Homo sapiens: one gene and its partners. The protein of the gene in region 3 purifies or fractionates together with the protein of the main gene of each other region. This does not show direct contact. Each region holds a gene or a part of one and is shown on either strand. Other genes may lie near its edges.

Region 1 (3,500 bases), on a different chromosome or scaffold from region 3:
CTACTAAGTCTTGTTTTAGAGGGTAGCCAATCCCCCCACCATACCTCCACCAGGAGCTCTTTAAGGAAACTGCTAATTAACGTTGCTATCTTGTCTCCATCTATGAGATGAAAGTGGCCATCTGCATCATGGTAGTAATAAACAATTCTGTCTGCATCTCCATCAAAAGAACAGCATCTTTCATTGGACTTAATTTCCATTCCTAGCACACAGGATAATTTAACATGCATTTCAGTCTAAGAATTTATTATAAAGAGTTTTAGAATTTTCTCTTAAAATTATCCACCTAAAAATCAATGTCTTAATCTTAAATAGTGTATAATCTTTAAATAGTACATAGTTTATTAGTGGTTTTTACAGGTCAAATTCTTTCACTGCAAAGTGAAAAAAGGAGCATTCAAAATCTATGCTGATATTTGCTATAATACTACCATAAAATTCCACTTTATAAGCAGGTTGGTTTGGCTAGACAGGTGTCCCATAAAGGTTTTTTGAAAGCTACATGTATTTCTGAATGTAATTTACCTAGGACCGTGATCTCCTTTACATAGAAAAAATAATCAGCACTAGATGATGTATGTGCTTTAATTCTAACAGAAATGATTTTTATTTGTTCATACCACCAATAAAAAGAAACACTGATAATTAAGAGCAAAGAATTATAACTTTGAGAGATAACTGGCCTGTGAAATTTACATAAAGTTGCTGAAATCTCAGCAATTGTCACATCAAATTTATTAGAAAATTTGGCTATTCCTTAGCCATGACAGCAGCAGAGTGACAAATTCAACATGAGACAACTAAGAAGTAAAAGGCTTTTGTCAGGAATGGGATCATAAGATTGATGAAAGGACATGATGCAAGCTTCAGGAAAGCAAGGACTATGGTTTTGTTCATACTGTAGTCCCAAAGCCTAGAGCATAGAGAGTAAGAGCTCAGTATTTAAGAAATGGATAAATAAGTGGCAGAACTGAACTGTCAAGTAAATGTCAAAACAAGCAATTCAATGAAAAGGAGCTCAAATTGGTTGACTACACTGACATTTTAAATGCTTACTAAGTAAAGCATAATAACATGAATGAATGAGGCAACTGGATGAAGTCTGTAGAGTTCCAGAATGCATGTCCTATTTTAGGGGAGCAGCATCTATCTGACTGTAGTGGACTAATGCCATGTGTGAACATTTTCTGATTTTGGTAAAGAGATGCTAGAGATTCCAATATATAAGAGAAGTCACGGAATTTTTAAACAGTGGCACACAGACAAACACACAAATGCAGCCAGCCAAACAAAACATATCTGCAAGTCAGGTTTGGCCTAAGCAAATAATTTAGGGTCTATAATGCAGATAAATCCAGAACACCTCTTACTACAACTAAAATCTGAAGAAAAGTCTTCCTCCTATTCTGCACTGAGTGGAAAACACTGATTGCTAACAACTGTATAAGCAGAGTTACATTTGCTTTCCATAGTGTATTTAATTCAGATAAGGTATCTAATAATACTTACTATGCTCCCCTGTAGATCTGTGATTCTCAAAAAGGGATCCCCAGACAAGCACTGGGAACAAAGCCTGCAAACTTGATAGAAATGCAAATTTCTATCATATGCAAATCCTATGCCAGACCTCCAGAAACTCAGAAGTGGAGCCCAGGAATCTGTGTGCTAACAAGCCCTCAAAGTGATTCTGACACATGCCAGTTTGAGAACCACTGCTCTAGAATGCCATTTCCTGACTTTGCTTTCCCCACCTGATTTCCTGTAGACTATGAGGAATGGTGTGATTTACAGGCAGAGAGAGCAGACCATGTTTCAATGGCTCTGAGAGTGGGAAGACTTCTCAATGTCTAAATGTGGCAGAGCCAGGAATAGCTGCAAGATTCTTAACTCACTTTACCACCTTAGTTTATAAGTGAGATTGGCTTCAAAGAGCATTAAAAACAAATTTTTGCAGTGCTAGTACGACATACCCTGTGGAGGTTTCTGATGACTTTTCACAAAGTCAGCTCCACATAAATGATTGAGTTTGCCCTTGGACCCATCATTAAACAGCTGAACTGACAGGCCCTGTGAGAAGTAGTGTTCCATTTCCCTTAGCTTCAGGGCCCCTATGCCATTTGCACAGTCAACCTTAAGTGATCTGTATTCATCTCCACTGCAAGAAGCCTACAAAGGAAAAAGACACATGGAAGAAAAATTTCAAGTTATAAAAATAAATGTGAAATATAAAGCATATATACATATGTGCATATGTAAATATTTAGTTAACTCATTTTAATTTTTAAATTTTATCAATTATAATTGTGTTCATTTTTCAATTTTTAAAATTATAAAACACTAAAGTAAAATTTAAAAACACCTGGAACAACAGAATAGTTTTGCTGATTGAACAACTTATAGCATAGAGCTTTATTAGAATTTAGTCTCAATTAACAGGGTCTCTTAAAAGTAATATTACAAGGGAGCCATTCAAATGCAAGAATAAGCACACAGACAAATGGGCAGTAATGACATGTCATTCTTTTTATAGTATGTGACATCATCATCAGGCAGATTTGTTTTTTTTCTAATTGTCTCCTCTCCCAGCTATCCTCACCCCAAATTATAAGTTCTATGAGAGCAAGGGCTTTTAGTTAATTGTGCCTGGTAAGGACATATACTCAATATTTGTTGATCAAACGAATTATACTTCTCAAATCTCTCTACATTTAACAAGCCAATATACCTAGAAGAAAATCTCAATAGTACATGCCTCAGGTATTAAGCCAACAGCACCTACATTAACTAAGATCAAATTCATCTGAATGAATACTTATGATACCATCGTCAAGACCCCCACCATGTTTGCTTCCCCAAAGTATCTCAGAATGTACTACATAATTTGCCAAGTAAACGCCAATGTAAGTTAGCAGGATACATAGACCAGAACCTTGTGTAGCCCTAGAGAAAAACAAAAAAGGAGATATGCAGCATCTTTGGAAAAGGAAAGAGGAGGCATGACAAACAAGATAATTTGTTCAGTAGACCATGTTACTTTATTCATTTGTTTAACTTTAACCATGTTCAATAAACTTTTCACCTGTTTGGTGAGTTCCACAAAAGCCTTAGAGAGTTTCTGGTAGTAACCTTCTATAGTTGCCTTTCCATATCGGCCACCCGTGTTTCGACAATACACCATGTAGTGCAGCTGGGGTGTTGTTAACAAGCCATAATCTGTCATAGAAATACAAAAAGCAATTCACCGCATTTCTTAACAAAGAGAAAAAAGTTTAAATGCATTCATGTGTAGGAATTTCAGGGTGACAAATCCTTTTGTGTCATCTCAGACATCTTAGAAAACATAAAAATGATCTTAAAAAGAAATATAAATGACTATAAGAAGCCAAAAAACCAATCATTACATATAAACAGGTAACAATGTAAATATAAAGCAATACAGACAAGTAATAATTGAGTTCTGTTTCCAGTAACATTGCAAACTACATAATTCAGATGAATCA
Region 2 (3,500 bases), on a different chromosome or scaffold from region 3:
TTCTGAGAGGCATGGACATGACTAATTACAAAAGGTTGTTATAGGCATAAAATTTCAGGTCTATTTATATAATTACATAGTTCATTAATACAGAGAAGGTAAAGAAATGAATGCAGGCTTAAAAATTTGGAAATTTCTGCATTTTAAAAGAATCTTTTTGTAGGACTATTAAGGCTCAATTTATTGAAAAATTGTAATATTTCTTTTGTGTTTTAGTATTGTGCATTATTTAAAAATGAGATATTAAGACTTAGGAGAAATGGGGAAGCATTAGGATGAGAAATGCTGAGATTAGGAACTCTGCCATATGCAGGGTTTTTGTTGTTGTTGTTGTTTTGGTTTTTTTTGTTTGTTTTTTTGAGATGGAGTCTTTTCTGTCGCCAGGCTGTAGTGCAGGGGCGCCATCTCAGCTCACTTCAACCTCCGCCTCCCAGGTTCAAGCAACTCCCTTGCCTCAGCCTCCCAAGTAGCTGGGATTACAGGCACACACCACCACGCCTGGCTAATTTTTTGTATTTTAGTCAAGACGGGGTTTCACCATGTTCGCCAGCATGGTCTCGATCTTCTAACCTCGTGATCCACCCGCCTGGGCCTCCCAGAGTGCTGGGATTACAGGCCAGCACCGCATCCACCCATGCAGGGTTTTTTGTTTGTTTGTTTTAAAAAAAGGAGACTAGGAGCTCTTTTATTAAAAAAAGGAGGAGGCATTTGTGTGTCTTAATTACTAGGATAGTGCCTGTTACTTACTAGCCTCGGTTTAGTGAAAAGTTATTAATGAATGCCAATTCAAATAAAACCTTCAGAAGAAAAATGAAGAAACATTCCTTGGGACAGTACCTTAGAACAGTGCTTCTCATCACTTCCTCCCTAAAAGAAACACTTCTGGAGTGTACTGAGACTTTTTGCCAGAAAACATTTGTACCAGTGTATATAGTTATTTTAAGGACCTCTAGGGATGCATGTTCCATAAAGGAATAAAGAGTAAACCTTATAATGTAGCCAATAGATAGGGGATTCGGTTGATACCAGAGTGAAAGCTTTAATGTGGATGAACCATGTGACACTCCATTTGTGAATATTAATATTGAATATTTGGTAGGTTGAGGTAACTAAGTTCTTTTCTTTTTTTTTTTTTTTTTTAGAGATAGGGTCTCGCTCTGTCACCCACGCTGGAGTGCAGTGGCACCACCTCAACTCACTGCAGCTTCAACCTCCTGGGCTCAAGCGATTTTCTTCCCACCTCAGCCCCCAGAGTAGCTGGGACTACAGGTGCGCACCACCACACTCAGCTAATTTTTTTTATAGAGATGGGTATCACCATGTTTCCCAGGCTGGTCTCAAACTCTTGATTTCCGGCAATCTGCCCACCTTGGCCTCCCAAAGTGCTGGGATTACAGGCTTGAGCCACTGTGCCCAGCCACTTCTTTTATTTTCATATTCTTCAACCACCAGTTGATTTAAAATATTCCAAGGAATCAAGAGCTAAAGAAAATATCATTATCTTTCTATATATAATAGTTAATATTAATGCTTACTGTGAGCTTGATTTTTGTTTATCCTTACAACTTTAGTAAAAGAGGATAATAATAATCTCGTTTACAGTTGAAGAAACTGAGATTTGGAGAGATTAAGTACTTGTTTAAGGTCAGTTAGATAGTAGGTCTGGGACTTATAGGATCTCTTTACCCCCAGAACATGAACTCTTGACCACCCAGCTATGTCACTTCTCCAGGGTTTAGACTAGTGGATGTTAAGATTCAGGCCTTAAATTTCATTTCCCTCTAAAATTAGGCTTATAGAATATTTCATGCTAGAAGATGCTTTTAATAATTCCTGAGGACTACAAAAAGTTTAAGATCTGGTGCTTACTTTCCCTAAATCTACATGCTTGTTGAATAGTTAAGACACTATTGTAAAAAGATGAATAACCCAGGGCAATATGTAATTGTCAGGCATTAAGTGGCAGAGAATATTAAAGCAAGAAGATTCATGTCCATGGAGAGATTTGAGCCAGGTGTTGAAAATGAAACTCTAGATAGAAAGTGAAAATGTAAAGCACACGATACAAAACTTCACTGGGGAAGAGGGAATAGATAACCTGACTGTAGCTGGATGGATATTGTCCACAGAACTCCTTAAGAATAGGGACCTTGTCTTACTAAACGGAATCGTTCTCTTTGTCTGGCTCTGGGCCATGTGGGTTCTCAGTAGGTGCTTGTTTAAGTAGAATTGGGTTTTATTTCCATTATATAGGGATTTTAGGAACCTCCAGAAAACCATTGTAAAATCAACTAAACTGTTTGTTTAAATACCACTTGATAGAATCTTCTTAAAATAATTCACCCCATTTTGGAATGCAAGTTTTTCCCAATTTGATAAAGGTTTATATTACCAGATTTATTTATTTAAGTGTTTTGGATATTGGACGGTATTTTCTTTTGGAAACTGTTTAAAATGCTTGTAAAAAAAACTCAAGCCTTTTAAGGAATCAGGTTTTCAGAGCTGGAAGGAACCTTAGAGATCCTATCATATAGCTGAAAGTACAGTGTGGGTGGGCATTTACAATAACATAACAGGAAATAGTGAAATTATCTTAAGTACTTGTGCTTGGAGAAAAGCAGGTTTAATCAGAAGAAATAGATTTGCAGAGATTAAGAAGGTGATTTCTGGGCACTTTTAAAAATACTTAGAAGGTTGATGGCAGTAACTTTCTTGATTTTACTTTGATGTTTTTTTCTTGATATATACTATGCTAACTGGTTATCAGCAGTGATTAGGGCTCACCACTGAGAAAGAGGAGGAAGGGACCTCACAGAGAAAACTGGGAAGAAAGATTAGTAAAAATTAGATTTCTTTACATGAACAATATTAAGACTATTCCAATTTAGGTCTTGTGTGGTGGCTCACGACTGTAATTCCAGCACTTTGGGAGGCCAAGGCAGGCAGATCATCTGAGGTCAGGAGTTCATGACCAGCCTGGACAACATGGTGAAACCCCATCTCTACTAAAAATACAAAAATTAGCCGGGCATGGTGGTGCATACCTGTAATCCCAGCTACTCGCGAGGCTGAGGCAGCAGAATTGCTTGAACCTGCGAGGCAGAGGTTGCGTGAGCAGAGATTGCACCACTGCACTGTGGCCTGGGTGACAGAGGGAGACTGTCTCAAAAAGAAAAAAAAAAAAACTGTTCCAACTTAATTCATAGCACTCTAAGGAATAACTGAGGAAAAGTGAAATAGCAGTGGTGTATGTGCAGGATCTCTGAAAGGTAATTGGTGTACTGAGTGATAAAATTGACCATATCAACTAGATTTCTGGTTGGAAGCAAGAGTAAAATTGTGTTTATGTATGATGGGAGAGGCTGTGGTGAGAGTTATTGTGAGTGCAAGGTATCTATCGATCTAGTGCATACCTAGTGTAAGTTCCAGACTGTGTTACTCATCACTGTGTTTGCAGAGTAGAGTTCCTTATGTTGGTGCCCTCAAAATACTTGTTGAAT
Region 3 (3,500 bases):
AAGATTGCTGGGGTTTTTGCTCTAAAAAATATAAATAATTTTTTTAAGCAAAAATCAGAAAGATCTTCAAAGACATACCTTTTTCATGATCCTCCATAATTTTTTTAAAAAACAATTTCCATCAGAAGAACTAGACTGTCATTAATGAATTTTAGTCTTATAAAATTATGCTGAACAGAAAAATGAGAGAATCAAACATTTTAACTTGGTCATTCATATATCCCTCTAAAAATTATCAACTGTATCTCTTAAAAGGAACTTTATTTATTTATCTTATTATTTCTCAGAGATGGGGTCTCACTTTTTCACCCAGACTGGAGTGCAGTGGCATGATTATATTTCACTGCAGCCTCAAATTCCTGGCATCAAGGGATCCCTCTATCTCATCCTCCTGAGCAGCTGGGATTACAGGCGCATGTCACCACACCTGGCTAATTTTTTTTCAATTTTTTGTAGAGACAAGGTCTCACCATCTTACCCAGACAGGTCAACTCCTGGGCTCAAGCAATCCATCTATCTGATTACGTGCATGAGCCACTGTACCCAGCCAGAACTTTATTTTTCAAGTAAATGCCGCTCAACGAAGAAGACTCAAATTCAAGAAAGGTACTGCAAAAGTTTCTCAATGTTCTAAATTAGAGCAATGATAAAGATCTATTCTCATAAAGGAGAAACAAATTTAGGTTCCTGATTTTTGGTTCAATTTAATTAAACATTAAAAAACATCTTGAAAATGGTACTGAACTTTTTAAATATCTATCATTTTCCATATTTAGTCTTAATTCAAGGATCTATACACAACACAGTCCCAAAATACCTCTGTTTTCCATGACTGTTCTATCGGGTTAAAATGAACTACCTCTAGTCCTAAATATGCCCCCAGTTGTCTGAACTCACTTTTGTTCACATTATTCCCATGCTTTCTGCCAAGAGTAGCCTCCTGTCCTATCTCTGCTTGTCAAAAGTACAATTCGTCCTTTAATGCTCACCTCTCCATGTTTTAATCGCAGGAGTGATGAGTTGAATGGTAAAGGGGACAGAACAAGAGCCTTAGAGTCAGGGAAACTGGAACCTAAACCCACAATCACAGCATGAGACCTGGGACAGGCTCCAAGTGGCTCCTCATCCCTAAAATGGGATATCCTCATTTTGCATGGCTGTGGTAAAGACGACGTTTAGTCCAAAGTCTGACACACAATAGGTGCTCAATAGTGAGCAGCAGGAGTGGTGATGGTAGTAACAAAATGTACAGTTATAAAGCTTTTCTTGACCTCCTCAACCAGATAAAGTCTGTTCCTTTTCTGAACCCCCTTCTCTATGATTTAGGTAACTACAGTTGTGCCTCACTTGGCAGGGATATGTTCTGAAAAATCCATTGTTAGGCAATTTTGTCATTGTGCAAACATCTTAAGAGTGTACTTACACAAACCTAAATGGTATAGCCTATGTAATATATATATATATATACACACACCTAGGCTATAGAGTATATATACCTAGGCTATAGAGTATATATACCTAGGCTATAGGGTATATATACCTAGGCTATAGAGTATATATACCTAGGCTATAGAGTGTATATACCTAGGCTATAGAGTATATATACCTAGGCTATAGAGTATAGCCTGCCGCTCCTAGGCAACGAACCTGCACAGGATGTTACTGTACTGAATGCTGTAGGCAAGTGCAACATAATGGTAAGTATTTGTGCAACTAAATATAAAGAAGAAAAAAGGTACAATAAAAATATAGTCTTGGCCAGGTGTGGTGGCTCACGCCTGTAATCCCAGCACTTTGGGAGGCTGAGTCGGGCGGATCACGAGGTCAGGAGATTGAGACCATCCTGGCTAACATGATGAAACCCCGTCTCTAGTAAAAAAAATACAAAAAATTGGCCTGGCATGGTGGCGGGTGCCTGTAGTCCCAGCTATGTGGGAGGCTGACGCAGGAGAATGGCCTGAACCCGGGAGGCGGAGCTTGCAGTGAGTGGAGATGCGCCACTGTACTCCAGCCTGGGCAACAGAGCGAGACTCCATCTCAAAAAAAAAATAAATAAATATAGTCCTGGCCGGGCATGGTGGCTCATACCTGTAATCCCATTCACTTTGGGAGGCTGAGGCAGAAGGATCACCTGGGGTCAGGAGTTTGAGACCAGCCAACATGGTGAAACCCCGCCTCTACTAAAAATACAAAAATCAGCCAGGCGTGGTGGCGCACACCTTTAATCGCAGCTACTTGGGAGGCTGAGGTAGGAGGATCCCTTGAACCAGGGAGGCGGAGGCTGCAGTGAGCCGAGATCATATCATTGCACTCCAGCCTGGGCAACAAGAGCAAAACTCCATCTCAAAAAACAAAAAATAAAAATAAATAAATAAATAAAAATATGGTCTTATAATCTTATGGGACCACTGTTATATATGGGGCCTGTCATTGACGAAAATGTCATTTTGTAACTTTCTGCCAACAGGAAATGCTCACTTGATACTATTATACATTCCCCATTCTCTTCTCACCCACTACTTAAAAACATTTTTTTCTCATGTGTTTATGTAATCATTTACCCAATACATATTCATTAAGCAACTCTTCCAGTTAGGGCTCCTTCTAAGGCTGATTTGGTTAATCATGCTGTTCAACTTTTTAAAATGTGTATTATTTTTTTCCGCTTATTCATTGGGTTACTAAGAAGGTTGTGTTAACATTCTTCAAGTATGAGTCTGGGTGTCTTGGCTGACACCTGTAATCCCAGCACTTTGGGAGGCTGAGGCGGGAGGATTGCTTGGGCCTGGGAGGTTGAGGCTGTAGTGAGACAGGGTCTTGCTCTGTCACCCCAGGCTGTAGTGCTGTGGTGTGATCTCGGCTCACTGTAACCTCCACCTCCCGAGTTCATGCGATTCTTGTGCGTCAGCCTCCTGAGTAGCTGGTACTACAGGCTGTGTCACCACACGCAGCTAATTTTTGTATTTTTAGTAGAGACGGGGTTTCACCATGTTGGTCAGGCTGGTCTCAAACTCCTGGCCTCAAGTGATCCGCCTGTCTCAGCTTCCCAAAGTGCTGGGATTATGGGCGTGAGCCACCGCACCCAGCCTGATTGTATATTCTTTTTGCTTCTGCTAATTTATGCCTCATAAAATTTAAAGTTATGTTATTACTTTTGGAGAGATTATGTATTGTTGCTTAATAGATTATTTTATTATTATAAAATATCCCACTTTTCCTCTAGTAAAACTTCTTCCCTTGAAGTCTTTAGTCTGATACTAATACTGGTTGAACATCCCTAATTTGACAATCCAAAATCTGAAATGCTCCAAAATCTAAAACTTTTTGAGCACTTACAAGATGATTAAAGGTTAAGTTCTAAGGAAATGCTCACTAAAGCCATTTCAGATTTGGGACTTTTGGATTAGGGAAGCTCAACCAGTAAGTATAATGCAAATATTCCAAAGTAAAAAAAAAAAAAATCTGAAACACTTCTGGTCCCACTTTGGATAATGAGTACT
Region 4 (3,500 bases), on a different chromosome or scaffold from region 3:
GATCAGTATTCAGTGTTTATATGATTATGGCTATGTAAACACTATTCACAAAGAGCCAAGTGGTAAGCTGTGATTGCTTTTCCTTTCTTGTACCACTTCTTTTAGTGGTGGTTGTTATAACGTCTTGTTTTTTCATTTGCCTGGTTTTCTGTGCATATATTATGAACTCAACCTCCCACTTTCTCTTGATTGTCTAAACTGCTCTTCAGATGCATTAGATCTGTTCGTTTTCTCTCAGTTATACCTTAGTTGCATCTGGTGTTCTCTCGGTTTCATTTTCCTTAAGTTTTTCCCAGCACCTTCTGACCTGCTTTGGTTTGGACCAGTTGTCCTTTATGCCTGTTTAATGACAATTGTTGTCTGACTTCTCTACCCTGGAGATTGCCCTTTACCTCTCTCCTGTTGCTTGGTCTAATACATCCTCTGGTAGCTTCTTGGAAAAGGGTCAGTTGGGAGGTAATATTTTGAGACTGCATATGTCTGAAAGTGTCTTAGCTGAGTATACAGTTCTTTTCCCTTCAAAATTTTGAAGGCGTCGTTCTGTTGTCCTTTGCCTCCCAGTGTTACTCTGAAGCCATTCTGATCCTCAGTCCTGTATATGTGGCCTAATTTTTCTCTGAAAATTGTAGAGTCTTCTCTTGTTCTATTTTGAAATTTCATGGTGATGTGCCTTGGTGTTGGTCTGTTTTCATCCATTGTCCTGGGCTCTCTTGTCCTTTAGTAAGGCAAATCTTCTTGAAACTATTTGTTAATTTCTTTCCTTCCGTTTTCTTGGACCCTTATTCCTGAATTCTCTTATTTGGATATGGGGCCTCCAGGATTGCTCCTCTAATTTGCTAATCTTTCCTTCCTGTTTTTCTTCTTTTTGCCTTTTTACTTTACTTTCTATGAGCTTTTCTTTATCTTTGAATTTTTCTGTTGATGTTTTTTTCCTCCCATTTTTCTTCTCGTAGGTTTTTAATTTCTCAGGTAAAAAAACTCAGGTTTTTTATTTCAAGGCTCTTATCTTTATTCTTTCATTTTTGTGTGTGTGTTGAATGTTCTGCTCTTATATCATGGTTGTAATATGTTCTTATCTCTCTATGGTAAATTAAAAAATCTAGGTACATTTTTCTAGGCCGTATGAGGGGAATTTTCTTTTTTCTGTAAAGCAGTTAGAGGGAAACTTTTCATATAGATTTTTCATAACAGACAGACTAGCTAAAGAGCCCTATACCCCTACAAGATCCCAGGCCTTAAAGAAAGCAAAGATTATTTTGAAAAAGTTTCCATTGATTTTAGTCTCATACTCTTTGCTTAAAACTCTTGATAAAATTTGTGTATGTGTAATTTTTAGCTTGTGAATTTTTTTTTTTTTTTGAGACAAGGTCTCACTTTGTTACCAAGGCTGGAGTGCAGTAACATGATCTCAGCTCGCTGCAGCCTCTGCTTCCTGGGCTCCCACCTCAGCCTCCCAAGTGGCTGGGACCACAGGTGCATACCACCCCATGTCTGGCTTTTTTTTTTTTTTTTTTTTTTTTTTTTTTTTAATTTTTAGTAGAGACAGGGTCTTGCCATGTTGCCTGGGCTGCTCTTGAACTCCTAGGCTCAAGCCATCTGCCCACCTTGGCCTCCCAAAGTTCTGGGATTACAGGTGTGAGCCACCGTGCCCAGCCAGCTTATGAATTTTTTTAATAACAATCTTACTGATATAAAATTCAGATATCATGAGGTTCACTCTTTTAAAGTATACAATTTAGTGATTTTTAGAATATCTAGAAAATTGTGCATTGATCATCACTATCTAATTCCAGAATAGAATATTTTTGTCACCCCAAAAACAAACCCAATACCCATTAGCAGTCTTCATTCCCGTCTCTTTCCAGCCCCTGGCAACCATTTATCTACTTTCTGTTTCTATGAATTTGTCTATCCTGGACATATCATCTAAATGGAATCATATAGTACATGGCTTCCTTCACTTAGCATATTTCAAGGTTCATCCGTATTCTAAAATAGATGGAACTTTTTATGGCCAAATAATATTCCAGTCTAATTTCTCTATCTGTATTCACTATTGGTGAGACATTCTTCTCATCATTCCTATAAACTCTTTAGATATGGTTTCCTTTAGCTTTTTGAAAATATTTCTTGTACTGATTTAAGGTTTTTGTTTGACTGGGCGCAGTGGCTCATGCCTGTAATCCCAGCACTTTGGGAGGCTGAGGCAGGTGGATCACTTGAGGTTGGGAGTTTGAGATCAGCCTGGCCAACATGGTGAAACCTGTCTCTACTAAAAATATAAAAATATTAGCTGGGCGTGGTGGCAGGCGCCTGTAATCCCAGACACTTAGGAGGCTGACGCAGGAGAATTGCTCGAACGTGGGAGGCGGAAGTTGCAGTGAGTCAAGATCGCGCCACTGCACTCCAGCCTGGGCAGCAGTGAGATTCCGTCTCAAAAAAAAAAAAAAAGTTTTGTTTAATAACACCAACATCTAGGCTTCTTAAGGGACAATTTCTATTGACTGATTTTTTTCCCCTTATGTATGAGCCATAATGTCATACATAAGGGAAAATGCATTTCATAATGTTTTGCATCTCATAACTTTTTGGTGATAACTAGACATTTAAAATAATGTAATGTGTCACCTCTGGAAATCAAATTCTTCCTTTCCCCAGGGTTTGGTATTATTGCTGTTTGTTGTTCTTGTTTTTCCTTTCAGGTTTTTTGGTCAGCCTCTTTTTTTTTGGTAGAGAATGGGTATAATTCTTCTTCCCTAGCAAACATGGTTGGTAACAGAAAACAGAGTCCTTCACACAATTATGCTATCAGGACAAAGCATTCTTTTTTAGCCTTGACCTCCTGGGCTCAAGTGATCCTCCAGCCTCAGCCTCCTCAGTAGCTGGGACTACAGGTGCATCCCACCACACCTGGCTAAGCCAAAGCATTCTGTACCTTACTTTTAGCTCTACCTATGTGCGCACTCCACAGGCTATTTTTGTATTTCTCTGTAATTCTTGCTGTGGCTTATGTAGCAGCTTTCTAATGTGAGTTCTGTTTTTTGTTTTTGTTTTTCTTTAGTAGATAGATACTATAGAAGGGGAAAGGCGGTTGACTATTTTATACTGTGATGTGCATGGCATTATAAATTCATTTTTACCAGGCCATATGGAAATGAATATAATTAAGTTAAAAATAGCTTCTACTGGCCGGGTGCAATGGCTCACGCCTGTAATCCCAGCACTTTGGGAGGCCGAAGCAGGTGGATCACTTGAGGTCGGGAGTTTGAAACCAGCCTGGCCAACATGGTGAAACCCCGTATATATTAAAAATACAAAACAATTAGCCGGGCGTGCTGGCGCATTCCTGTAATGCCAGCTACTTGGGAGGCTGAGGCAGGAGAACTGCTTGAACCCAGGAGGCGGAGATTGTAATGAGCCGAGATCGCACCACTGCACTCCAGTCTGGGCTCCAGAGCAAGACTCTGTCTCAAAAAAAAGAAAAAGAAAAAAAAACAAGC
Region 5 (3,159 bases), on a different chromosome or scaffold from region 3:
CTCAGATCAGGGTCCAGAGTTGCTTTTCTAGTGGTGGGACATGTCTGTGTGCTCCTTGGGATCAGTGTAAAGTAAAACGACCCAGGCAAGGAATCTGCTTCAGGACTTTGGAACACACTGTGAAGCTAACTGATCTAAACTTGAATTACCTATTTATTTATTTATTTATTTATTTATCTTTTGAGAGAGTCTTGCTCTGTTGCCCAGACTGGAGTGCAGTAGCATGATCTCAGCTCGCCGCAACTTCCGCCTTCTGGGTTTAAATGATTCTCTTATCTCAGCCTCCAGAGTAGCTGGGATTACAGGTGCCCGCCACCACTCCCAGCTAATTTTTGTATTTTTAGTAGAGATGGTGTTTCACCATGTTGGCCAGGCTGGTCTCAAACTCCTGACCTCAGGTGATCCACCCACCTCAGCCTCCCAAAGTGCTGGGATTACAGGCATGAGCTACTGCGCTCAGCCTGGATTACCTTTTAAAATTTGGCTTACCACCTGAACTAATTTGCTACAGAAAACTAGAGAGCTTATACTGTGCTGATGAGATATGATGCTTCCTATGAAGGTATGTTAACACATAGAGTGAGTGCTTGAAAGTGTCCAATCTAACTTCAGGGGTAGATTTGAAAGGGCAATTTTTTAAAAAGTGTCCAGTCCCCCTTAGTGGCTTCAGTGTTTATACTGTGGAGCCTTGCCAGACTTCTTAGGATCAAATCACAGTTTCCTGAGTTCCTTTCTATGGGCTTGGCTAGGAGCTCTTCTCATTTGTGGACAGTTTTGACTAACCTGTAATTATATCGTGGGCTTAAAATCTGTCATCAAGATTTTAAGCCAGATGGCATGTTCTACCTTTTTTTTTATTAGCTCAGAGTGAAAAATTTTTCAGATGAATTTTCATAGATTCTTCTCCTAACTCTATGAAATGGTGGTATATGAAAAAGTTCAGTGGTCATAATTAAAAATTGCTGAATGATATTAAGTATGAAACAGACTTCCAATTAATTAGAAGATTTTGCAGAGTTGTTTAACCTTAAAATTCAAGCATTACTTCCTTTTTTGAAGTTGTATTTACAAGCATTTGATGTAATATATTTAAGTATTTCTTAATTTTCCACAAGGGGTTTATGGTATGAAAAGGTCAGCATCCTACTAGGAACAGGGTTTAGCAGAGCACTGATAGTGATTTTTAAAGTGTGGTCCTTTTCCTAGGAGTTTCTAGTTGGGAAATGAAAGAAAATGTTGATAGCAAACACTCGGAAGAAGGGTCAAGTCTTGTATATCTGGACATTGGTATAATACTGCTTGAAACCTGAGGACAAATATTTGTGTTTCACAGGATCATGTTCTAATTGAGCTCACCCAGGCTGGATTGAAAGGCTCCACAGAGGGAAGTGAGAGCTATGAAGAAGATCCCTACTTGGTAGTTAACCCTAACTACTTGCTCGAAGATTGAGATAGTGAAAGTAACTGACCAGAGCTGAGGAACTGTGGCACAGCACCTCGTGGCCTGGAGCCTGGCTGGAGCTCTGCTAGGGACAGAAGTGTTTCTGGAAGTGATGCTTCCAGGATTTGTTTTCAGAAACAAGAATTGAGTTGATGGTCCTATGTGTCACATTCATCACAGGTTTCATACCAACACAGGCTTCAGCACTTCCTTTGGTGTGTTTCCTGTCCCAGTGAAGTTGGAACCAAATAATGTGTAGTCTCTATAACCAATACCTTTGTTTTCATGTGTAAGAAAAGGCCCATTACTTTTAAGGTATGTGCTGTCCTATTGAGCAAATAACTTTTTTTCAATTGCCAGCTACTGCTTTTATTCATCAAAATAAAATAACTTGTTCTGAAGTTGTCTATTGGATTTCTTTCTACTGTACCCTGATTATTACTTCCATCTACTTCTGAATGTGAGACTTTCCCTTTTTGCTTAACCTGGAGTGAAGAGGTAGAACTGTGGTATTATGGATGAGGTTTCTATGAGAAGGAGTCATTAGAGAACTCATATGAAAGCTAGAGGCCTTAGAGATGACTTTCCAAGGTTAATTCCAGTTGTTTTTTTTTTTTTTTAAGTTTATAAAAGTTTATTATACTTTTTTAAAATTACTCTTTAGTAATTTATTTTACTTCTGTGTCCTAAGGGTAATTTCTCAGGATTGTTTTCAAATTGCTTTTTTAGGGGAAATAGGTCATTTGCTATATTACAAGCAATCCCCAAATTTTATGGTCTTCCAGGAAAAGTTATTACCGTTTATGATACTAACAGTTCCTGAGACTTAGCTATGATCAGTATGTTCATGAGGTGGAGCAGTTCCTGTGTTGCAGCTTTTAACAACAGATGGCATTCATTAAATCACAAAGTATGTTAAAGGTCACAAAAGCAAAATAACTGTCTGAGGCTAAGGCCCACGTGGGACAGTCTAATACCCATGAGTACTCAACTTGCCTTGATGTCTGAGCTTTCCAGTGCAATGTGAATTTGAGCAGCCAGAAATCTATTAGTAGAAAGCAAGACAGATTAATATAGGTTAAAACAATGATTTAAATATGTTTCTCCCAATAATTATCTCTTTCCCTGGAATCAACTTGTATGAAACCTTGTCAAAATGTACTCCACAAGTATGTACAATTAAGTATTTTAAAAATAAATGGCAAACATTAAAAACAAGAGTGAATACTCAAGTAGATTTGTCATGGGATTTTTATAAGAAGACTGGTATCAGGTAATGTATCTTTAAAGACTAGGCTGCTCTGCTGACGTAGTAACCATTTTTTATTCCTTTACTTTCCTAATAGCCTTGCTTTCACTTAAGAAAAAAAAAGGCTAGGCACGGTGGCTCACGCCTGTAATCCCAGCACTTTGGGAGGCCAAGGTGAGTAGATCACCTGAGGTCAGGAGTTCGAGACAAGCCTGGCCAACGTGGAGAAAACCTGTCTCTACTAAAAGTACAAAAATTAGCCAGGCATGGTGGTGGGCACCTGTAATCCCAGCTACTCAGGAGGTTGAGGCAGGAGAATTGCTTGAACCCAAGAGGTGGAAGTTGCAGTGAGCTGAGATCATGCCACTGCCCTCCAGCTTGGGCGGCAACAACAACAACAAAAAAAGATTCCCAGGCTTCACCCTCTACAGTCTATGGAAAGTCATGGGAGTCTATTAAAAAAAAACAG
Region 6 (3,500 bases), on a different chromosome or scaffold from region 3:
TAAATGGATTAAGGGCGGTGCAAGATGTGCTTTGTTAAACAGATGCTTGAAGGCAGCATGCTCCTTAAGAGTCATCACCACTCCCTAATCTCAAGTACCCAGGGACACAAACACTGCGGAAGGCCGCAGGGCCCTCTGCCTAGGAAAACCAGAGACTTTTGTTCACTTGTTTATCTGCTGACCTTCCCTCCACTATTGTCCTATGACCCTGCCAAATCCCCCTCTCCAAGAAACACCCAAGAATGATCAATAAATACTAAAAAAAAAAAAAAAATAGTTCTCAAGAATAACTGTAGAATGTGCTAGGAATGCAATATCCTGAGATAAGGAGGGACTGGCTGAAACAGCCCAGGCTCTGTTCCAGTCCCTCCTAGAAACAGGATGTCCTTCATCATTTTAGCCCAACATGTCATGTTGCCTCCAGAATATAAAACCCAAGATGGTCTGCTTTCCAGGTACAAATGGGGTACACACAAATGAGACTCCATCCTCCCGGGGCAACCTTCCTGAGTCTCGGGAGATTGGCTCACAATGAATCCTATGCTTCGGTTTTCCCTTGTTGCCTAGCTGTAAATAATAAATTTACTTCATGTAACTTGAAAAAAAAAAAAGAAAAGAAAAGAAAAAAAGAAATTATTGGCCAGGCGCAGTGGCTCACACCTGTAATCCCAACACTATGAGAGGCTGAGGTGGGTGGATTACCTGAGGTCAAGAGTTTGAGACCAGCCTGGCCAACATGGTGAAACCCTGTCTCTACTAAAAATATAAAAATTAGCTGGGCGTGGTGCCAGGCGCCTGTAATCCTAGCTACTCGGGAGGCTGAGGCAGGAGAATTGATTGAACCTGGGAGGTGGAGGTTGCAGTGAGCCAAGATCGCACCACTGCACTCCAGCCTGGGTGACAATGAGGCTCTGTTTCAAAAAAGAAAAAAAAAACAAAACAAAAAACAAAAAAAAAAACAGGCTGGACATGGTGGCTCACGCCTGTAATCCTAGCACTTTGGGAGCCCAAGGCGGGCGGATCACCTGAGGTCAGGGGTTCGAGACCAGCCTGGCCAAAATGAAACCCCGTCTCTACAAAAAATACAAAAAAATTAGCCGGGCGTGGTGGTGCATGCCTGTAATTCCAGCTATTCGGGAGGCTGAGGCAAGAGAATGGCTTGAACCCAGGAGGCAGAGGTTGCAGTGAGCCGAGATAGTGCCACTGCACTCCAGCCTGGGCGATAGAGCAAGACTCAGTCTTGGAAAAAAAAAAAAAATAAGAAATTATTTATAGCCTTGAAGAATATTACAGGGACACGTGGCAGATCTAAATAAGAATCGTCTATTCAATAACGTCACTGTCTCATGTTAAACTGCATGATGATGACAATGACACTGTAGTTCTGCAGGCGGACATCCCTGTTCTTAAGAGCTGACTGCTGGAGGCCAGGTACGGTGGCTCACGGCTGTAATCCCAGGACATTTGGAGGCCGAGGCAGGGGGATTGCTTGAACCCAGGAGTTTGAGATCAGCCTAGGCAACATGGTGACACCCTGTCTCTATAAACAATATAAAAATTAGCAGGGTGTGGTGGCACACACCTTTAGTCCCAGCTACTCGAGAGGCTGAGGATCAGCTGAGCCTGGGGAGGTCGAGGCTGCAGTGAGCTGTGACCACCCCACTGCACTACAACCTGCATGACAGAGTAAAATACTGTACCAAAAAAAAAAAAAGAGGCCAGGTGCGGTGGCTCATGCCTGTAATCCCAGCACTCTGGGAGGCAGAGGCACGTAGATCATAAGGTCAGGAGTTCAAGAGCAGCCTGGCAAAGATGGTGAAACCCCATCTTTACTAAAAATACAAAAATTAGCCAGATGTGGTGGTGCGCGCCTATAGTCCCAGCTACTCAGGAAGCTGCAATAGGAGAATCGCTTGAACCTGGGAGGCAGAGGTTGCAGTGAGCCAAGGTCGCACCACTGTACTCCAGCCTGGGTGACAGAGCAAGACTCCGTCTCAAAAAAAAAAAAAAAAAAAAAAAAAGAGTTAACTGCTGGAGTTTTCAGAGGTGAAGTATCATGATGACCACAACTTTCAAATAGTTCAGCCAAAAAAAGGACAAAAGGTACAGGTATATGCATGTGCTTGGATAAAGCATAAAGCAAATGAGGTGTCATGCCAACAGCCAGTGAATCTAGGCAAAGGGCCATGGCTGTTCACTGTACTCAATTTGTACCTTCTCTGCAGGTTTGAAACTTTTCAAAATATTAAGGGGGAAATATATAAAATGAAAATAGTAACAAATTTACAAGGTGGGCAGAAGAGTATGTAGAAATCTTTTTGCTTTTAATGCAGGGAGTATGTAGACGTCTTTTTTATTGTAATGCAGGGAGTATGTAGACGTCTTTTTTATTGTAATGCAGGGCATATGTATAAATCTATTTGCTTTTAATGCATCATTCTATAAGGAGAGCTAAGAAACTGGTTTCCTGGGGGACAGGGTAGAAGACTTCATTTGCTAACTGCTTTATTGAGCTATAATTCACATACTATACAATTCACCCATTTAAAGTATATATAGTTCAATGGTATTTAGTATGTTCAGAGTTAGGCAACCATCACCACAGTCAATTTTAGAACTCTCTCATCACCCCAAAAAGCCTAAATCCTTTAGCTCTCTCCCTGCATTCAGCCCATCTGCCCCCACCCCTGGCAGCCACTCATCTAACTTTCTGTCTCCATGGATCTGCCTATTCTGGGCATTTCCTATAAATGGGATCTTGGAATATGCAGCCTCTTGTGTCTGGCTGCTTTCTCTGAATGTGTTCATCGCTCATGTGTGTGGCGGCCTTTCGTCAGTGCTGTGTCCCTTTTTTGCTGAGTACTTTTCCGCTGTATGGCTAGAACACGTCTGACGTATCCCTTCATCAGTGGATGGACATTAGGGTTGCTTCCACCTTTTGTGAGTGGTGCAGCCGTGAGCGTGTGCAGGGGGTTTTGTGTGAGGAAGACTTTGACTGCGTTTGTGCTCTTTGGGTGACAACCGCGTACATGTGTGACTTACAGGAAGAAGCAAGCGTCGTTAGCGGCTCTGGCTTCGGGTTGTGCAAGTAGCCAGAGAGGGACAGGGAGTGATGATCTGCGAGGAGAGACCCGGGTGGGACAGAGGAAGCGCAGGGGCTTGTGGGAGCCCAGAGTCAGTGCTGAAGCTGGAGGAGGAAGGAAGGAGCTGACTGGCTGCCCTTGGTCAGTTGGCTGTGGCTGCGGGGGTGCGGTGGGAGGGACGGTGTCACCAGGGGCAAAACCTGGGCTCTTGTTAGTGGAGGCACAGCAGCATTAGGAAGGAAAGGCCCCTGTGTGTCCCCTCTCATTGGCCCTGGCACAGGATGAGAGCTTGGCAAACACTGTCCTCTGCCCCTCTCACGACCCTTCGGTAGCAAGCACTTAACAGAGATTCAGCAACAAAATGACACCACGTGCTCGCTGCAGGCCAGACACCAGTTTTCTCGATGAGTGAGACAC
Region 7 (3,500 bases), on a different chromosome or scaffold from region 3:
AACTCCGCCTTCTGACACGGGACCACTGGAGCGCGGGGAGCATGCATCAAGGGTCCGTGGCAGTGAGAAGTCCCCACACACGCTCGCTCTGTGAACTGGCTTAGATGCTTCTCTGTAGCCCCATTTGGTTGCCAAGCGCCGGAGAACCTGGGTTCGGGTAAAAATTTCAGGTCCTCCAACGCCTCCCCCAAGGATAATTGGGGTGATTGTAGAAAAAAATAATTAATAAAAAAAAATGTAAGTTACATCCAAAGGGTCAGACTGCATCTATTGCCCAGACTGGATTAATTTCAAGGGAGAAAGGGGAGATTAAAAAAAAAAAATTAGCTGTTGTTACAGGGCTTGTGAAGAAGGGGCATTATGTCTGTTTCTTATTACAATAAAGGCTCCTCGGTCTTTACTGACCCCTAAAGTCCTGAATCACACCAGAAAGACGAGAAGGCACTTATCACAGGGGGCAGCTTGAGTCTCCGGCTAGGGTCGTTGACGCAACAAAGGAAAAAAGAATTTACAGGGCCAGGGTGGATGTAAGACAGGGGGTGGGGAATTCTACTCCATGGTATCTTCAGAGCTAGGATAATGCTCCTTATGCAATCCCACTGCATATGACCATGGCAGTAGAACAAGTTCAATTACTACACTGGATGCGTTAAGTGTGCTTTCCTAGCAGAAAGCACCAGGGTGGAGTCAACAGTTCACATGCTAATACTTGGAAGTATTTCTAGAAGGGGGTGCTCAATAGAGGGCAGACATGATGCAAGTTCTTCATACTAGAAAGGTGTCCTGTGTGTGCATGCACAGCTGGATGGGGGCACACAGGAGCAAGCGCAGAATTTGGTTTTCTCCAGTCAAGTCTACCCTGATGTTATCTGTGCACTGCCACAATATTATCTTGCTGCCTTTCTAGAAGATGCTGTAGCAGGGTAAGAAATCCAAAGTTAATGTTTTGGCCAGCTGACTGGGATAAGAACCTTTTGTCTGAAAGGCCCTATGACATGGCCTGAATCGCCAATCACTAATAAGGAGGGACTAAGTCTAGCCAAGAGGCTCATCTAGAGCTGCTTCCGGCCAATGTAGATTTGTCTCGGCCATGTATTGAGTGATCTGCAGCTGATATCAAAGCTTCTGTTAAAAAACAAAACAAAATAAATTCAATACTTTTAGTTTAACAGTGTGTAGTTCAAACAAAAAAAAGGAAAAATAAAAAATATCCCAGTGGAAAGGGAAGTGGTAGCCTAAGGATGACTATTATAAAATTATGGGAATCAAAGAACTTACCTGAAGGGAACATTTAAGAGACCATCGCTTGACAGGAAGTGAAAAAAGGCCCTGGTGACTCAGCTGAAAATTGCACCCCTGTCTATGAGGTAGAAGCCTTCACTTTCCAGGATCTTGTAGGACATTGGTCAGAATTCTGCCATTTTGGTGGGTTTTCTCCCTCTTTTGATTTTTTACAAGGCAGCAAACAAAGGGGCCCAAAACAAGCACTGATGTTGAGTAACAAGAAACAGACTCGGGTACCTTCCCTCTCCCCTCACTTGGATGAGTGGGGGTGGGATGAAGAGTCTAAGTTATTCTAATGGTAGCCAATTAATTTGGTTTAGAAATGCAAGGGGACATGGAGCAAATATTTTTAATTGTCTAGGCAAGATGCACAAAGAAGCTACCAGCACATAGCAAGCCTGTTTAAAAACCAACCATTACTGAAAGCTTTATGTAAACTGCTTTCAGGCCTCCGCCTCCTCTCCCAACAGGCCCAAGTTCTAATGGCACAGATCCAGACATGACCTCAGAGGGCAGAGGGGCAGAGAGAACTTTCCATCATGGCTGCAGGTCACCACCTCTGAAGGAGGGAATGATGAGTGCAATGCATAAAAAGGCTTCATTACTTTTGTATTCCAGTTTGAATACCTGTTCTCTTTATATTATATAGTATAAGGGAATAATATGGTACTTCTCACCTTACTGGGCAAATTAAATACCTGTCAATAATTTAAGGATTTCCTTGTAATACAAATAATCTTTTTTTTTAAAATATAGAAGTTCTGAGTTAGACCTGTTTAGCTCAGAATAGTGGGCTAAACTACCATAAAATTCTCTGTATATCTTAAATGGTAATGGGTCAAAAACTCCAGAAAATCATCAGTTGATAACACACCTACAGATAAGTGCATGGGTAGGAGGGGATAGCCAAGTGCCCATGATAATTTGACCTCAGTAAATTAAACTGGGCAATACACATATTTGCTATTCTGATACTGCATTAGACTTATAAAATTCCATCTAATAAGCATTCATAAAACTGGACCTCTCTGTATATATCTAGCTTAGACAGGGATAGGGAAAAGAATAACTGAAGAAACTAGCTTACAATAGCTAGGTTTCGTCAGGCTTATTCTATCCAGCCAGAAACCACCACCAGAGAGAAGCTGAGCCATTCAGCTGTCTGTCTCCTCTCCCTCTGTTTGAATAGTCATGCCTAGGCCTTGCTGCAGACCAAAGCCTGTTTGTTAGGAGCAGGAAGAGACTTTGAAAATAAAAGGGGGGTGGGGGAAACCAAAGTTAAAAAAAATTGTGGGGGGGGCAGGGAATGGGGAGAATCACGCTTTGTATTTTTTTCTTTCAAATATTTATCTAACCACATGTATATACAACTTTCTAAACTTGAAGTCTGAATTTGAAATGACGAATCTTTAAACCAAAAGATACATATACCATTGACAGAGACACCTATCTATACAAACCTAGCCCACGGGAGGCTACATCTGTAGCAATAAGGATGGGTGCCTTTCCAGAACGGAACTCTGTAAAAACAAACAATAATCATCATCAAATAAGCATTCCTTGCTATCTGATCTGTTTACATAACCATGTTAAAATTTCAAATAATGGTGCCAGAAAATCCCAAGCTCTTGTAATGACTGACAGTGATTCTTTTGAAAATCTTTATTACACTCATATTCAGCAGCACAATAGTTACCTCTACTAATAATGAAATACCGTTAAGAGAGTGTGGCAATTTGTTACATAATTAATATGAGCTAGATTTTTTTCCCCTTAAAGTTATTTCCCAAATGAGACACAACCAAAAGTTGGGGGTCAGTAGGAAACAAGTTCAAAAGATGTAGAATGAAAAGAACTGAATTTCCCCCCAAAAGGTATGCATATTATTTATTTTTCTTTCTTTTTTTTGAGATGGAGTTTCGCTCTTATTGCCGAGGCTGGAGTGCAGTGGCGCAATCTCAGCTCACCGCAACCTCCACCTCCCGGGTTCAAGCGATTCTCCTGCCTCAGTCTCCCAAATAGCTGGGATTACAGGCATATGCCACCATGCCCGGCTAATTTTGTATTTTTAGTAGAGACGGGGTTTCTCCATGTTGGTCAGGCTGGTCTCGAACTCCCAACCTCAGGTGATCCGCCCACCTCAGCCTCCCAAAGTGCTGGGATTACAGGCGTGAGCCACTGTGTCCGGCCACATTTTATTTCTTAAACAAAATATG

What was found.
Region 1: the proteins of SPRTN (region 3) and PGM3 purify together in Homo sapiens (affinity purification with mass spectrometry, with the first as the bait; 2 studies listed by BioGRID). This does not show direct contact.
Region 2: the proteins of SPRTN (region 3) and CAND1 purify together in Homo sapiens (affinity purification with mass spectrometry, with the first as the bait; 2 studies listed by BioGRID). This does not show direct contact.
Region 4: the proteins of SPRTN (region 3) and PSMC2 purify together in Homo sapiens (affinity purification with mass spectrometry, with the first as the bait; 2 studies listed by BioGRID). This does not show direct contact.
Region 5: the proteins of SPRTN (region 3) and MCM6 purify together in Homo sapiens (affinity purification with western blotting; 2 studies listed by BioGRID, with this or other methods). This does not show direct contact.
Region 6: the proteins of SPRTN (region 3) and POLD1 purify together in Homo sapiens (affinity purification with western blotting; 2 studies listed by BioGRID, with this or other methods). This does not show direct contact.
Region 7: the proteins of SPRTN (region 3) and DDX17 purify together in Homo sapiens (affinity purification with mass spectrometry, with the first as the bait; 2 studies listed by BioGRID). This does not show direct contact.

What each region holds. Positions count from the first base shown.
Region 1 is NC_000006.12:83,179,766-83,183,265, forward strand, and holds part of PGM3 (phosphoacetylglucosamine mutase), read right to left. Parts: intron 3,214-3,500; coding exon 3,080-3,213; intron 2,167-3,079; coding exon 1,971-2,166; intron 203-1,970; coding exon 45-202; intron 1-44. UniProt on the Homo sapiens protein: Catalyzes the conversion of GlcNAc-6-P into GlcNAc-1-P during the synthesis of uridine diphosphate/UDP-GlcNAc, a sugar nucleotide critical to multiple glycosylation pathways including protein N- and O-glycosylation.
Region 2 is NC_000012.12:67,272,358-67,275,857, forward strand, and holds part of CAND1 (cullin-associated NEDD8-dissociated protein 1), read left to right. Parts: intron 1-1,142; exon of another isoform or gene 1,143-1,269; intron 1,270-3,500. UniProt on the Homo sapiens protein: Key assembly factor of SCF (SKP1-CUL1-F-box protein) E3 ubiquitin ligase complexes that promotes the exchange of the substrate-recognition F-box subunit in SCF complexes, thereby playing a key role in the cellular repertoire of SCF complexes.
Region 3 is NC_000001.11:231,341,293-231,344,792, reverse strand, and holds part of SPRTN (DNA-dependent metalloprotease SPRTN), read right to left. Parts: intron 1-3,500. UniProt on the Homo sapiens protein: DNA-dependent metalloendopeptidase that mediates the proteolytic cleavage of covalent DNA-protein cross-links (DPCs) during DNA synthesis, thereby playing a key role in maintaining genomic integrity.
Region 4 is NC_000007.14:103,357,643-103,361,142, forward strand, and holds part of PSMC2 (26S proteasome regulatory subunit 7), read left to right. Parts: intron 1-3,500. UniProt on the Homo sapiens protein: Component of the 26S proteasome, a multiprotein complex involved in the ATP-dependent degradation of ubiquitinated proteins.
Region 5 is NC_000002.12:135,839,126-135,842,284, reverse strand, and holds the end of MCM6 (DNA replication licensing factor MCM6), read left to right. Parts: intron 1-1,333; coding exon 1,334-1,450; 3' UTR 1,451-2,659; downstream 2,660-3,159. UniProt on the Homo sapiens protein: Acts as a component of the MCM2-7 complex (MCM complex) which is the replicative helicase essential for 'once per cell cycle' DNA replication initiation and elongation in eukaryotic cells.
Region 6 is NC_000019.10:50,387,347-50,390,846, reverse strand, and holds part of POLD1 (DNA polymerase delta catalytic subunit), read right to left. Parts: intron 3,188-3,500; exon of another isoform or gene 3,043-3,187; intron 1-3,042. UniProt on the Homo sapiens protein: As the catalytic component of the trimeric (Pol-delta3 complex) and tetrameric DNA polymerase delta complexes (Pol-delta4 complex), plays a crucial role in high fidelity genome replication, including in lagging strand synthesis, and repair.
Region 7 is NC_000022.11:38,489,312-38,492,811, forward strand, and holds part of DDX17 (probable ATP-dependent RNA helicase DDX17 isoform 1 precursor), read right to left. Parts: intron 2,805-3,500; coding exon 2,745-2,804; intron 1-2,744. UniProt on the Homo sapiens protein: As an RNA helicase, unwinds RNA and alters RNA structures through ATP binding and hydrolysis.